Homo sapiens: one gene and its partner. The protein of the gene in region 1 interacts with the protein of each later gene in a biochemical or structural test. Each region holds a gene or a part of one and is shown on either strand. Other genes may lie near its edges.

What was found.
Region 2: the proteins of POLE (region 1) and CLSPN form a complex in vitro, tested with the Homo sapiens proteins (one study listed by BioGRID).

What each region holds. Positions count from the first base shown.
Region 1 is NC_000012.12:132,642,343-132,649,342, forward strand, and holds part of POLE (DNA polymerase epsilon catalytic subunit A), read right to left. Parts: coding exon 6,964-7,000; intron 6,731-6,963; coding exon 6,587-6,730; intron 1,685-6,586; exon of another isoform or gene 1,636-1,684; coding exon 1,495-1,635; intron 1,219-1,494; coding exon 1,065-1,218; intron 989-1,064; coding exon 882-988; intron 655-881; coding exon 478-654; intron 388-477; coding exon 164-387; intron 56-163; coding exon 1-55. UniProt on the Homo sapiens protein: Catalytic component of the DNA polymerase epsilon complex. Participates in chromosomal DNA replication.
Region 2 is NC_000001.11:35,738,966-35,745,998, forward strand, and holds part of CLSPN (claspin), read right to left. Parts: intron 6,598-7,033; coding exon 6,486-6,597; intron 4,612-6,485; exon of another isoform or gene 4,566-4,611; coding exon 4,490-4,565; exon of another isoform or gene 4,277-4,489; coding exon 4,176-4,276; intron 565-4,175; coding exon 400-564; intron 293-399; coding exon 171-292; intron 1-170.

The DNA of each region.
Region 1 (7,000 bases):
GGAGCCGAATGTGGAGATGTCCTCTGGTAGGTTCCCAATGGGAATGTGAAAGTACCTGCACCAGGGCACAGGTCAGCACCGGGGCACATCGCCGGGTCACAGAGACCACCGAGGCCGGCTCTGCCTGGGGACCACTGGCCCACAACGACAGTACTGTGCTCACCTGCTCATCTCGAAGGCCTGCGACAGGCAGGTGTCCAGGTTGAGGTAGTGACGGATCATGCGCCGGGCTCCATGGCGCTGCCAGTCCAGGACCCCATAGTTGATCTTGTCAGCCACACAGATAGGCACCAGTGGGAATTCCTCCAAGACAGGAATTTCACTGGCCAGCCTCTTCAGCTCCCAGCTGGACTGAACAGCGATGAGTGTGGGCCCCCGGCGCTCCTCCTGGGTCAAGGCAAAATGGAAGAAAAGACCTGGGTGGACCCAGCCTCAAAGAAGATGGGGCTCACACAGCAAGACCCCAACCACTCTCACCTTGTAGGCGAGCAGGAATCGCTGGATGGCTCTGCAGATGGTCTTCAGGTCAGTTTCTGCCCGAACTTCGAAGGTGTGTTTGGGGGGTGGCAGGAGCTCAGGGCCCACCTTCTCCAGGAGGAGGCCGTGCTCTGCTGAGTACAGGGCGCCAAGGCTGGGCATCTGGTTGCTGCGCACCTAGACCAACGCAGGCCACGTCAGCCTCCCCCTGCGCAGGAGGAAGTGGGGGCAGCCCTGGGGCAGACTCCACCACTGCCACGGCACTGCCAATTCAATCACGACAAGCACTCATGGGCAAAGGCCCTTGAGGACAAGACCTGGAGGGCCTGGGCACCCTGGGAGATGTCCTCCTTCCCCAAACCCTGCCCCAGCCAATGTGCTGCCATGGAGGGCCCAGGACTCACAGTGTCCAGCACAAAGACGGATGCCCTGCGCTGTGAGGGGATGAAGATCCCGAAGAGCGCTTTGTGGGCCTGTGCGTGGTGGTACAGGTAGATATGGCGGATACTCCCTGGAGAAGGAAACAAGACCGTCACCCCAGATGTGTGGGAGGCAGGCACATGATGGGCGGCTGGTGCAGGCCATACCTGGTTCCAGGTAGCTGAACTGGGCCAGAGAGCGCATCTCCAGGTGCTCAAGAGCAAAGGTCTCTGCTTCCCAGCCTGAAAGGTGCCTCACCAGCTGTTTATTGACCACACACACACAGCCCAGGTGCACCAGGGCCCGGAACAGTAACGGAACCTGGAAGAATCGGGCAGACAGGCCGGCAAGGGCTGGATGGTGGGGGCTCTGGCTGCCCACGTGACTTCTGCCCGGGATGTGGCTGTGCCCCTGCAGCTGCCCGGCCCACTGCCCAAAGGCCACTTTTGGCAGACACACTGCTGACATTCACCTCACCTGTGGGAACGAGTCCACTGTCGCTGCTGTTCCCCAGCCCACACCCTGGGCGGGTTTCTTTCCTCCATACCACCCTGCTGGAGCCTCCCCCAGTTCAGTCGAGGGTGGCTGGGGAGTCACCTGAGTCTCATATACGCCCTCGATGTCTGGCGCTGACAGCTCAGCGTTGATCTCGTTGATGTGTTCCTGGTACATGTCCTCTGGCACTGAATACTCATAGAGATTGTAGACCATGTTGGAGCGAGGAAGGACCCGATTTACCTGGCGAGAATACGACGATGATCTCGTCACTGGGCGTAAGTGGTAATGTCTGTGGTACACACACAAAGCACACGCTATTCGGAGTCCTAGACTTCTGGTGCCCCTAGCGACGGGGTACACCCACCACGCCACAGTCCACCTCTCTCAATGATTACAACTAAAAACTCTGGATGTAATTTTTATGTTATTTATTTATTTTTTACAGACAGGGTCTTAGTCTGTTGCCCAGGCTGGAGTGCAGCAGTGTGATCACAGCTCACTGCAGCCTCCAACTCCTGGGCTCAAGTGGTCCTCCAGCCTCAGCCTCCTGAGTAGCTGGGACAAGGAACACACCACCACGGATGGCTTTTTTTTTTTTTTTTTTTTTTTGTAGAAAGGAGGTCTCACTATGAGGCCCAGGCTGGTCTCAAACTCCTGGACTCAAGTGATCCTCCCAAATCGCTGGAACTGCAGGTGTGAGCCACTATGCCTGGCCTCTGGACGCAATTTTGAAAAGCAACCTGCAGCCTCTGAGAATAGACAAGAGCTGTCAGAATACAGCAGTCAACACTGATCTGGGGAGGTTCCCAGTTCATCTTCCTCCATTCTCTCATGGGTTTAACCTGAGGGTGTAGATGGCAAAAACTGAGAGAAATCACATTTTCCTAGTCAGAGAAACGGAAAGAGAGCCCCTGGGGGAGCCAGAGTGTGTGTGTGGGGTCCTGGGGGGCTCTGGGAGAGCTGGAGAGGGGCACCCTAGCTTCGTGAATGGGGTCCTGGAGGGGTCTGGGAGAGCTGGAGAGGGGGCACCCTAGCTCCCTGTGTGGGGTCCTGGGGGGGTCTGGGAGAGCTGGAGAGGGGCACCCTAGCTCCCTGTGTGGGGTCCTGGGGGGGTCTGGGAGAGCTGGAGAGGGGGCACCCTAGCTCCCTGTGTGGGGTCCTGGGGGGGTCTGGGAGAGCTGGAGAGGGGCACCCTAGCTTCCTGTGTGGGGTCCTGGGGGGGTCTGGGAGAGCTGGAGAGGGGCACCCTAGCTTCGTGAATGGGGTCCTGGGGGGGCCTGGGAAAGCTGGAGAGGGGGCACCCTAGCTTCCTGTGTGGGGTCCTGGGGGGGTCTGGGAGAGCTGGAGAGGGGCACCCTAGCTCCCTGTGTGGGGTCCTGGGGGGGTCTGGGAGAGCTGGAGAGGGGGCACCCTAGCTTCCTGTGTGGGGTCCTGGGGGGTCTGGGAGAGCTGGAGAGGGTGCACCCTAGCTTCCTGTGTGGGGTCCTGGGGGGTCTGGGAGAGCTGAAGAGGGGGCACCCTAGCTCCCTGTGTGGAGGGCTGGGGGAATTCTGGAGAGGCGAGCTGGAGAGGGGTACCCTAGCTCCCTGTGTGGAGGGCTGGGGGAATCCTGGAGAGGAGAGCTGGAGAGGGGGCACCCTAGCTTCGTGTGTGGGGGGCTGGGGGAATCCTGGAGAGGAGCACCCTAGCTTCATGCATGAACCAGCAGCACAAGTCCCAGGCTCACTACGAGCTGCACTTGCACAGGTGACCCAAAACAACGCAGCAGAGGCTCTGGAGGCTGAGCTGACATTGGAAGCTTTGCACAAAGAGGCAAGGAAGAGCTTGGGCACTGGAATTAACCGTGTTGGTTGTTGCTAAAACAAACAAACAAAAAAACCTGACACGCTAAAGGATTTTTAAAAATACCCAAAGTCTCAAATATGTAAAATGTCCAGGTTGCAATAAAGCGTTATTTGGCGTAACAACAACCAGGAAAATCTGAATAATTCTCAAGCGAGAAGAGAACCAGTAGGGTTAGATTTTTCCAGTAACATGAAATTAGACCGACACACACACACACCCACACACACACACACAAAATCAAAGAAATGAAAAATTATGTTCTGGTAAATATGAACTGGAACAATTAGTGTAATTGCACTTTTTAAAATGTATATATTTCCTGGCTGTTCACTGAAGGAATCTAGATGAAATGATACCCCTTGAGCTCTAAGCTTGGTTTCTCAACATAACCTCTCAACGAGGCTCAGGCTCTTTAGAGGAACAGCTAATTCCACGTCTGGAAGTTCAAGGTGAGCCTGGCCTCTCTTAGTGGCCAAAAAGCAAGGAAGTTTTCAAAGACCAACAGGGCATGTCAAAAGGACTCAGGTGCCAGCTTGAAGGGATCTGGCCAGCCCAATTTGGGATAATTTGAGTCTCAAGAAGATATTGACCACCAAAGAGTCTACTGTCTGGTTCCATTAATATGAAGTTCTAGAAAGTCACATGCACACAGTTACAGAAATACAGAAATCAGGCCAGCAGAAGGTTGCACAGGGGGACAAGAGCACCCTCCCGGGTGATGGAAACGTTCTGCACCTGGGTGGGGGTGTGGGTGACACAGGCATAGTCATGTGTCCAAAAACCCAATCAACTGCACATTTAAAAATCTGCACTTAACTATATGTAAATTACAGTAAGTCCTCACTTAACATCAATGGATTCCTGGAAACTGTGATGGTTAAGTGAAGTAATGTATAGCAGGTCCTCAAATAACATCATTTTGTTCAACATTCTTTCTTCCTTTAAAAAAAAAAAAAAAAAAATTCTGGGGCCGGGCGCCATGGTTCAACCTGTAATCCCAGCACTTTGGGAGGCCGAGGTGGATGGATTACCTGAGGTCAGGAGTTCGAGACCAGCCTAACCAACACAGAGAAACCCCATCTCTACTAAAAAATACAAAATTAGCCGGGCGTGGTGGTGCGTGCCTGTAATCCCAGCTACTTGGGAGGCTGAGGCAGGAGAATTTCTTGAACCCGGGAGGCGGAGGTTGCGGTGAGCCGAGATGCGCCACTGGACTCCAGCCGGGCAACAGGAGAGAAACTCCATCTCAAAACAAACAAACAAACAAATAAAAATAAATAAATTTAAAAAATACTCTGTAGAGAAGGGGTTTTGCCACGTTGCCCAGGCTGGTCTCGAATGCCTGAGCTCAAGCAATCCACCAGCCTCAGCCTCCCAAATTGCTGGGATTACAGATATGCAGCACTGCGCCTGGCCAACACAGTTTCATTATAGTTTCTGAGAAGAAAAAAAATCTGTTTCATTATACATCATCTTACTTAGTCATTTCACTTAAAATTGCAGTTTCTAAGGACCTATCAACAACATAAAGTGAGGGCCTACCGTGTACCTTAACATACCTAACGTGTGTGTGTTGGGCGGGATTTGGCTACGGTTGATGTTAAAACATTAAACACTGAGGCAGGAGGATTGCTTGAGCCCAAGAGTACAAGGCTGCAGTGAGGCAAGATCATGCCACTGCACTCCAGCCTGGGTGATGGAGTGAGAGACCTTCTCAAAAACAGAAACAAAAAAGTTAAACAAAAATCCTCTAATCCATAGTAATACTTTAAAAAGAGAGGAAAAATGAAAGGAATAAACCCATTTTGCCATGCCCTACCTTGAAAATTAAAAATAATTTAAAGGGAAAAAGCATTTATCTTGCTTAAAAAAAAAAAAAGCGTATTATCCCTCTCGTATCTTGCTTTTTAAGGAATAGAGTTCATTTCTACCTGATCTGCACAAAGCTCTTCGTTATAAAGGAAACAGCTAATACACACAGAGGAACAGAATCTGAAGATATCATCCTGGAGCCCCATGGACCCCACGAGACATGGATGCTGACACCATCCAGTCAAACGTTGAGGACAGAATATTCACACAGCGCCAGAACCTCCCTCGAGATGAGCTGATAGTCATAAAGGGAAACATCCCAAAAGTTAGGGCACTTCCACACGGCCACAGCACCACAGCACCACGCATCGAAAGGAAGGTGTAGAAACCCCACAGTCCCACCTGTTCTCTGTGGTCTCGATGCCTCTGCGTCCGCTTTCCTCTTGTTATCCGCCCACCTCGGTCTCCCAAAGTGCGGGGATTACAGGTGTGAACCACCACACCTGGCTCTGCGTCTACTTTCTATATGCACATTCTACTGAATCACCTGGCTGGAATCGAGTTTCACCTTCTCCAGAAAACCTCCTTGTGTAGGTACAAATATGCACACCTCATCTCCCCAACTACGTGTCACTTCTTACGTGATTCACAGCATCCAGTCAAGAAATGTGCTGAGCCGACACATTAACAACGGGGAGTTCGGGTGGAGATGCCATCTAAGAGCCTCAGCGCACTCATGGCCACATGAAAACCCTCGCAGTTTCTGCAGGTGGAAGAAGCCCAGCACAAAGACCCACCTACTGTAGGGTTCCATTTACATCAAATGCCCAAACAGGCAAACCCAGAGACAGGAAGTGGATCAGTGGCTACTGAGGGCTGGGGGAGGATGGTGACAGGTAAGGGATGCCAGGTTTCTTTTTGGAGTGATGAAAATATCCGAATGGGGGGGTGAGGGGAGGGGGAATATCAGGATAAACAGCTAATGCATGTGGGGCCTAATGCCCAGGTGACGGGGTGATGGGTGCAGCAAACCACCATGGCATGTGCTTACTTATGTAACAAACCTGCACTTTCTGCACATGGATCCCAGAAATCAAAGTAAAATTAAAAAAAAGAAAAAAAAAGAAAATGTCACTATTGACTGGCAATAGTCATGCCACTAAAAGTCATTGAATTCTGCACTTTAAATGGGTGAGTTGGATGGCGTAACTTTACATCCCAATAAAGCTGTTAACAACCAAAGAGCCTACGGAGACAGAGTTCACAATCTCTAACCAATGCCACTTGGTTTGTCCCCGCAACATGGACCTCGCGGGCAGACAAGCTCATCGTGACAAGGACACCAGCAGCTCCATTCCCGGCACTCGCTCTGCCCCAGGCTCGGTGCTCAGCGCTCACACACGTTGTTTTGAGGAATTCCTAGAACATCCCCATAAGGTACTGAGGAGATGGAGGCTGGAGGCCAGGCTAGATCATGGGAAAGCCACCTCAGGCTGCCCAGATGACTGCAGAGGCAGCACCAGCTCCTCCCTACCTTGCGATACGAAGCACCCTCCTCCGCTTTAGCGACTCGCTGGTTCACGTAGAACACACGGGGGATGCTCAGCCTGATGCAGTGCAAGTCACTGCCAACGAGCGCCCACAGCCTGAACAGGCCGGCCTGGCTGGTCTCGCTGATCTGAAAGGCCACACGGACATACAGCACATCACAGGACACACTGGAACCCACAGACGGGGCCACCTTCCAGGTAGCTTGCAGCTCCCAGCACAGGGCCTTAGGCCTCCCTACGATGGGCAGGAAACTCCAGGCCCACTCTAACCCTCCCATCCCAGACCTCAGGGCCCAGCTGGACACCCCCTCCCTGGGCCATCAGCAGAGCCACTGCCCTCCCCTTGGATCAAGGTCTATACCTGCACAATCTGCCACGGAAGGTCCAGGATGCTGCGG
Region 2 (7,033 bases), on another chromosome or scaffold:
AATTTTTGAACTTTTAGTAGGGACGGGGTTTCACCATGTTGTTCAGGCTGGTCCTGAACTCCTGACCTTGTGATCCACCTGCCTCTGCCTCCCAAAGTGTTGGGATTACAGGCGTGAGCCACCATGCTCAGCCCGTAACTGATTGCTTTTAAAGACAACAACCAAGATACCTATGTTTTTCCATCGAAACTTCCTCATTCGCCCAGGACCATCGCTGTGCAGATCCCCATCAGCAAGGTACCTCTCTTGGTATAAACGTAGCTGTCGCTTATCATCATCCAACATAGTTTTCCTGCAACAGGAGAAATAAGGTGTTCAAAACAAGGACCATTCTGGCTGGTTACAGGGCTTGTCTTAAGATGTACCCTATTACTCAGAAGGGCTTATTGGGATACTGACATGTGTATTTTCTTGATTTGACTCTGCAGTTCCTCATCAGAAGGAAGTACTTCATCAATTACGTCCTCTTCATATTCATCAATTTCTTCCCCATCATACTCATCTTCGCTTCCCACATCACTTCCTGACACCTCTGCCTCATCCTCCAGGTATTTCCTCAACCTCCTAGAAAGCAATTTTGAGGATTAGAAAATGCAACAATGAATATACTCACAGAATATGGAAGCAAAGAAAAGCAGAACAGAGTCACTTCTAATAATAATAAACATAATACATTTGATAATATTTAAATTTTTTTGTAATAGTCTCCACTTATGATGGTTTGACTTAATGATTTTTCAACTTTACGATGACATGAATGTGATACGCACTTAGTATGCTTCTCGATTTACGATGGAGTTATATCTGGATAATATGAAAGTGCATTTTCAACTTATGATGGATTGATCAGGATATAGTCCCATTGTAAGATGTGGAGCATCTGTATTTAAAAGTTGATCACTTAATATGTCTTGTGTGCTAATAACTGTGCTTTACAGGCATTAACATATTATCATAGGAATGGGTACTATTATTCTCTTCATTTTACAGTTGAGGGAATTGAGCCTCAGAAAGATTACATTTACCCAAGGTCACATAGCTAGAAGGTAGCAGAGCCTGGATTCAACTTAGATTGGGTGATTTGAAAGCCAGAAAACTCTTAATCTCTTTTACATGTATTAGAATACCTGCTGGAAGGTTCAAACTATTTCATTTTGCATTTGAGCACACCAGCTTTAAGAGACAAACTAGAGATGGTGTGGTGTAGAAAGGTAATAAACTGGGATCTTCTTACAGCCTAACAAATCTTGACCCCCACATCAGAAGGAAGACTAAGGCTCAGAGCTCCTGGTAATCAAAACGACTAGTTACTTCTTATGACTTCAGCTCCCCCGGAGAATAAATCTGGTGTCACCCTGGATTCAAAGTCACCTTGGTCCCATGTGGTCCAAAATGGCAGAAGTTTGGTGGCTTTCTGAAAACTGATTTTTATCGAAGACCTATACTGTATTTTCTCTTTTTTTTTTTTTTTGAGATGAAGTGTCGCTCTGTCGCCTAGGCTGGAGTGCAGAGATGCCATCTCGGCTCACTGCAACCTCCACCTCCTGGGTTCAAGTGATTCTCATGCCTCAACCTCCCGAGTAGCTGGGATTACAGGTGCGTGCCACCATGCCTGGCTAATTTTTGTTTTTTTAGTAGAGATAGGGTTTCACCATGTTGGCCAGGGTGGTCTTGAACTCCTGACCTCAGGGGATCTGTCCATCTCAGCCTCCCAAAGTGCTGGGATTACAGGCATGAGCCACCACGCCCAGCCTATACTGTATTTTCTTAAAGCTAAGTTGTTCTAAATCCTAGAGTTCCTGGAAAATTCCTTCAGAGGCCACTAGTCACTAAGTTTCCCAAACTTCCCACTTACCATCTTTGAACAGTTCAACTTTTATCTGTCATTCTTTAAAAGATTTTATTTGAACAAAGAGCTCTGCAGAGAAGAACCACTACCTTAGAAAAATCTATGGATAACCTAAAGCTGTATGAGAGTTAATTTGATAGGTGATAAATTAGAACCCAAAGTGAATCTTAATAGAATGAAATGATGGGATAAAAGCAACCATATAAATCTAATAGGGATCAATATGATGTCCTATATGTGAATTCCAAATCATTCACATACAATATAATATTAAATACCTATTAGAATTATCTTTATAAAACTTTTTTTAACATCATAGGAAAATGTTTCTGGATATGCTAAGTAGAAAAAAAAAGATGCAAAATTATACATATAGAAAGATTGTACAAATCTCAACTATATAAAAATATATGCATAAAAAAGATTAAGGGGAACAAACTAACTTTCATTTATATCCTGGATGGTGGACATGGATAAGTTTTTATTTATATCTTTCTGTATTCTTTTTTTGCGGGGGTCGGGGAGAATGGAGTTTCTCTCGTCGCCCAGGCTGGAATGCAATGGCACAATCTCAGCTCACTGCACCCTCCACCTCCCGGTTCAAGCGATTCTCCAGCTTTGCCTCCTGAGTAGCTGGGATTACAGGCACTGGCCATCACGCTTGGCTAATTTTGTATTTTTAGTAGAGACGGGGTCTCGCCATGTTGGCCAGGCTGGTCTCGAACTCCTGACCTCAGGTGATCCACCCGCCTCAGCTTCCCAAAGTGCTGAGATTATAGGCGTGGGCCACTGCACCCAGTTTGTATTCTTTTAAATATCCTAAAATAAATATTTTACTTTCATGACCAGAACAGCATATCAAAAAAATGAGTTGGGCCGGCCAGGTGGGGTGGCTCACGCCTGTAATCCCAGCATGTTGGAAGGCCAAGGCGGGTGGATCGTGAGGTCAAGAGATCGAGACCATCCTGACCAACATGGTGAAACCCCGTCTCTACTAAATATACAAAAATTAGCTGGGTGTGGTGGCACGTGCCTATATTCCCAGCTACTCAGGAGGCTGAAGCAGGAGAATCGCTTTGAACCCGGGAGGCGGAGGTTGCAGTGAGCCGAGATCATGCCACTGCCCTCCAGCCTGGGCGACAGAGCGAGACTCCGTCTCAAAAAAAAAAAAAAAAAAAAAAAAAAAAGCTGGGCCTGGTGGCTCATGCCTGTAATCCCAGACTTTGGGAAGCAGAGGCAGGAGGATCACTTGAGGCCAACAGTTTAAGACCAGCCTGGGAACAAAGCAAGGCCCCATCTCTACAAAAAATAGAAAGAATTAGCCAGGTGTGGTGGCACATGCCTGTTGTCCCAGCTACTTGGGAAGCTGAGGCAGGAGGATTTAAGTTAAAAAGTGGCAAACTATTAACTGACTGTTAGGGGAGATTTCACCTAATCTAAGTTGAATCCAGCCTCTGCTGCCTTCTAGCTATGTGATCTTGGGTAAATTTAATCTTTCTGAGGCTCAGTTCCTTCAACTGTAAAATGAGGAGAATAATAGTACCCACTCATAAGATAATTTTTTTGAGATGGAGTCTTGCTCTATCACCCAGGCTGGAGTGCAGTGGGGCAATCTTGGCTCACTGCAACCTCCGCCTCCCATATTCAAGCAATTCTCCTGCCTCAGCCTCCCAAGTAGCTGGCACTACAGGCGCCCAGAACCATGCCTGGCTAATTTTTGTATTTTATTTTGTATTTTGTATTTTTAGTAGAGAGGGTTTCACCATGTTGGTCACGCTGGTCTCAAACTCCTGACCTCAAGTAATATGCCTGCCTTGGCCTCCCAAAGTGCTGGGATTACAGGCGTGAGCCACTGTGCCTGGCATAAGATAATATGTTAATGCCTGTAAAGCACAGTTATTAGCACACAGGACATATTAAGTGATCAACTTTTTTTTTTTTTTTTTTTTTGAGACAGAGTCTCGCTCTGTCACCCAGGCTGAAATGCAGTGGTGCGATCTCGGCTCACTGCAACCTCCACCTCCTGGGTGCAAGCGATTCTCCCTGCCTCAGCTTCCTGAGTAGCTGGGACTACAGGCACCTGTCATCACATCTGGCTAATTTTTATATTTTTTAGTAGAGACAGGGTTTCACCATGTTTGTCAGGATGGTCTCGATCTCTTGACCTGTGTCACCAAGACCAGGCTGGTCTTGAACTCCTGACCTCAGGTGATCCGCCTGCTTCAGCCTCCCAAAATGATGGGATTACAGGCGCAAGCCACCATGCCTGGCCTAGTGACCAAATTTTAAATACACCTGAAGGAATGGACATATTAATAACACGTACATTTGCCTTTTCAACTTCTCAGATCGCTTCAGGAGTTCTTCTTCATCATCATCTTCATGGTCTTCCAGTGCCAGATCATTACCAGAGTCACTGTGTTCATCCTACAAAATCAGCATCATATCCAAATTAAGCAGAATAAAATGCGTCCTCAATGAAAAAAGGATTTATAAACATCTGCCCAAATACCTCATTCTAGGAAATTGTTTCTGATAAGATGCCAAACTTAGAATTCTCAAGAACTGAGGGGAAAAAAACACTTGAGGGCAGCAATACATGGAGCTCAGTTATGATTACTTTGTTCCCTTCATACTCACCTCATCACTATCAAACTCATTATCATTTGAAACAAGCCGAAAGTCTCCAAATTCCTCCTCCTCGTCTTCCTCTTCCCTAAAATGTAAATCAATGAATCAATAAATAAGTTGTTGAAAGCAAACTACAAGTAGTCAGCCAAGTTATGAATTAAAAAAAATTTTGTGTGTGTTAATTTTTTTTTTTTCTCTGAGACAGTCTTGGTCTCTTACACCACCTGGAATACAGTGGCACCATCTCAGCTCACTGTAACCTCCACCTCCAGGGCTCAAGTGATCCTCCCACATCAGCCTCCTGAGTAGCTGGGACTAGAGATACAAGCCACCATGTTCAGCTAATTTTTGTATTTTTGTAGAGACAGATTTCACCATGTTGCCCAGGTTCATCTTGAATTTCTGGATTCAAGCAATCTGCTTGCCTTGGGCTCCCAAAGTACTGGGATTATAGGTATGAGCCACCTCGCCCAGCCAAATTTAAAACTTTTATTATCACCAATAATCTCTTCAATAAACAGGAAGAAAATTTTTTAAATTTTCAATTGTGGTAAAATACACATAATATAAAATTTGCCTTTTTAACGATCTTTCTATAGTTCTGTAGTGTTAAGTACATTCATATTGTTAAGCAATCTCCAGAACTCTTTTCAGCTTGCAAAACTAAAACTCTATACCCATTACACTCTCCATTTCCTTATAACCTCAGTCTCTGGCAACCACCATTCTACCTTCTGTCTCTATGCATTTGACTACTCTAAGTATCTCATGTAAGTGGACTCATACAGTATTTGTCTTTTGGTGACTGGCTTATTTCTTTTAGCATAACATTCTAAGGTTCATCCATGTTGTAGCAAGTGTCAGAACTTCTTTTTTTTTGAGACAGGGTCTTGCTCTGATGCCCAGAGTGCAGTGGCACAATCATGGCTCAATGCAGCATTGACCTCCCAGGCTCAAGCAATTCTCCCACCTCAGCCCCCTGAATAGCTGGTACTGCCGGCACACGCCTAGCTAATTTTAGTATTTTTTTTATAGGGATGGGGTTTTGCCATATTATCCAGGCTGGTCTCAAACTCCTGAGCTCAAGTGATGCGCCCACCTCAGCCACCCAAAGTGTTGGGATTACACGTGTGAGCCACCATGCCCAGCCAGAATTTCCATTTTAAGTTGAATATTCCTTTGCATATATACCGCATTTTGTTTACCCATTCATTTGCCAATAAACATAGGTCGCTTTCATGTTTTGACTACTTACTGTGAATAATGCTGCTTTGAACATGGGGGTGCAAATATCTGTTCAAGTCCTGCTTTCACTTTTTTGGGGTACAGACTAAGAAGTGAAATTGCTGGATCATATGGTCATTCTATTTTTATTTATTTATTTTGAGACGGAGTTTTGTTCTTGTTGCCCAGGTTGGAGTGCAATGGCATGATCTCGGCTCACTACAACCTCTGCCTCCCGGGTTCAAGCAATTCTCCTGCCTCAGCCTCCCAAGTAGCTGGGATTACAGGCATGCGCCACCATGCCCAGCTAATTTTTTGTATTTAGTAGAGACGGGGTTTCACCATGTTGGTCAGGCTGGTCTCGAACTCCTGACCTCAGATGATCCACCGTGCCTGGCCTCTATTTTTAATTTTTGAGGAGCCATCATACTTTCCCTGGCAGCTGCACTATTTTACATTCTCACCAATAGTACACAAGGTTTCCAATTTCTCCACATTCTCACTAACACTCTTGGGGTTTTTCTGATAAAAGTCATCTTAATGGGTGTCTCACTATGGTTTTGATTGGCATTTCTCTATTAATGATATTAAATAGCTTTCATATTCTTGCCTTTTTTACCCTGTTCTCCACCAAAGCATTATAATTTGCTTACTAGGCATATATGAGACTCAAATCCACTGCAAGATTCTCAGAAAAGGTGCAAAGCCCTTAAGATGATCAGTTATTTTGATTTTATCAAAAGGCCAGGCCTTCCCAAATTCCCAGCAATCTGAGACTTACTTGTCTGTGGGAAAAGAGCCTGAGCAAAGAGCAAGTGCTTCTTCCATTGGATCACCCATGCTGCTCTCCTTCTCCTGTTTATTTAACTCTGATGAGGCTGGAGTGGAGGCATCTACATCACAACAAGGAAAAGATGTGTCACCAAGGAATGATAGCTTTATACTCTTTTCCCAGCCATCTAAAGTCATGCCAGCTCGATACAGTTCTAAGGTAAGCTTGCCAAGAAGAGCCTACCATCTATTCATTCAACAAATCCTTATTTAGTGCTTACTATGTGCCATATGTGCCAGGCCACCAGGGATACAGTAATGAACAAACCACTATCCCAGGTCTCATAGAGCTTATGTTCGATCTAGCAGTTGTGTGTATTGGGGGCAGGGAACAGGAAGTAAGTTAACATTTATATGAAATTTATTATACATCAGACACTGTTCTAAACTTTGTACATACATTAATCATAAATGATATATGGGCAAAGCTAAAGCAGTCTTTTTTTTTTTCAAGACTTTTTTTTTGAGACAGTCTCTCTCTGTTGCCCAGGCTGGAGT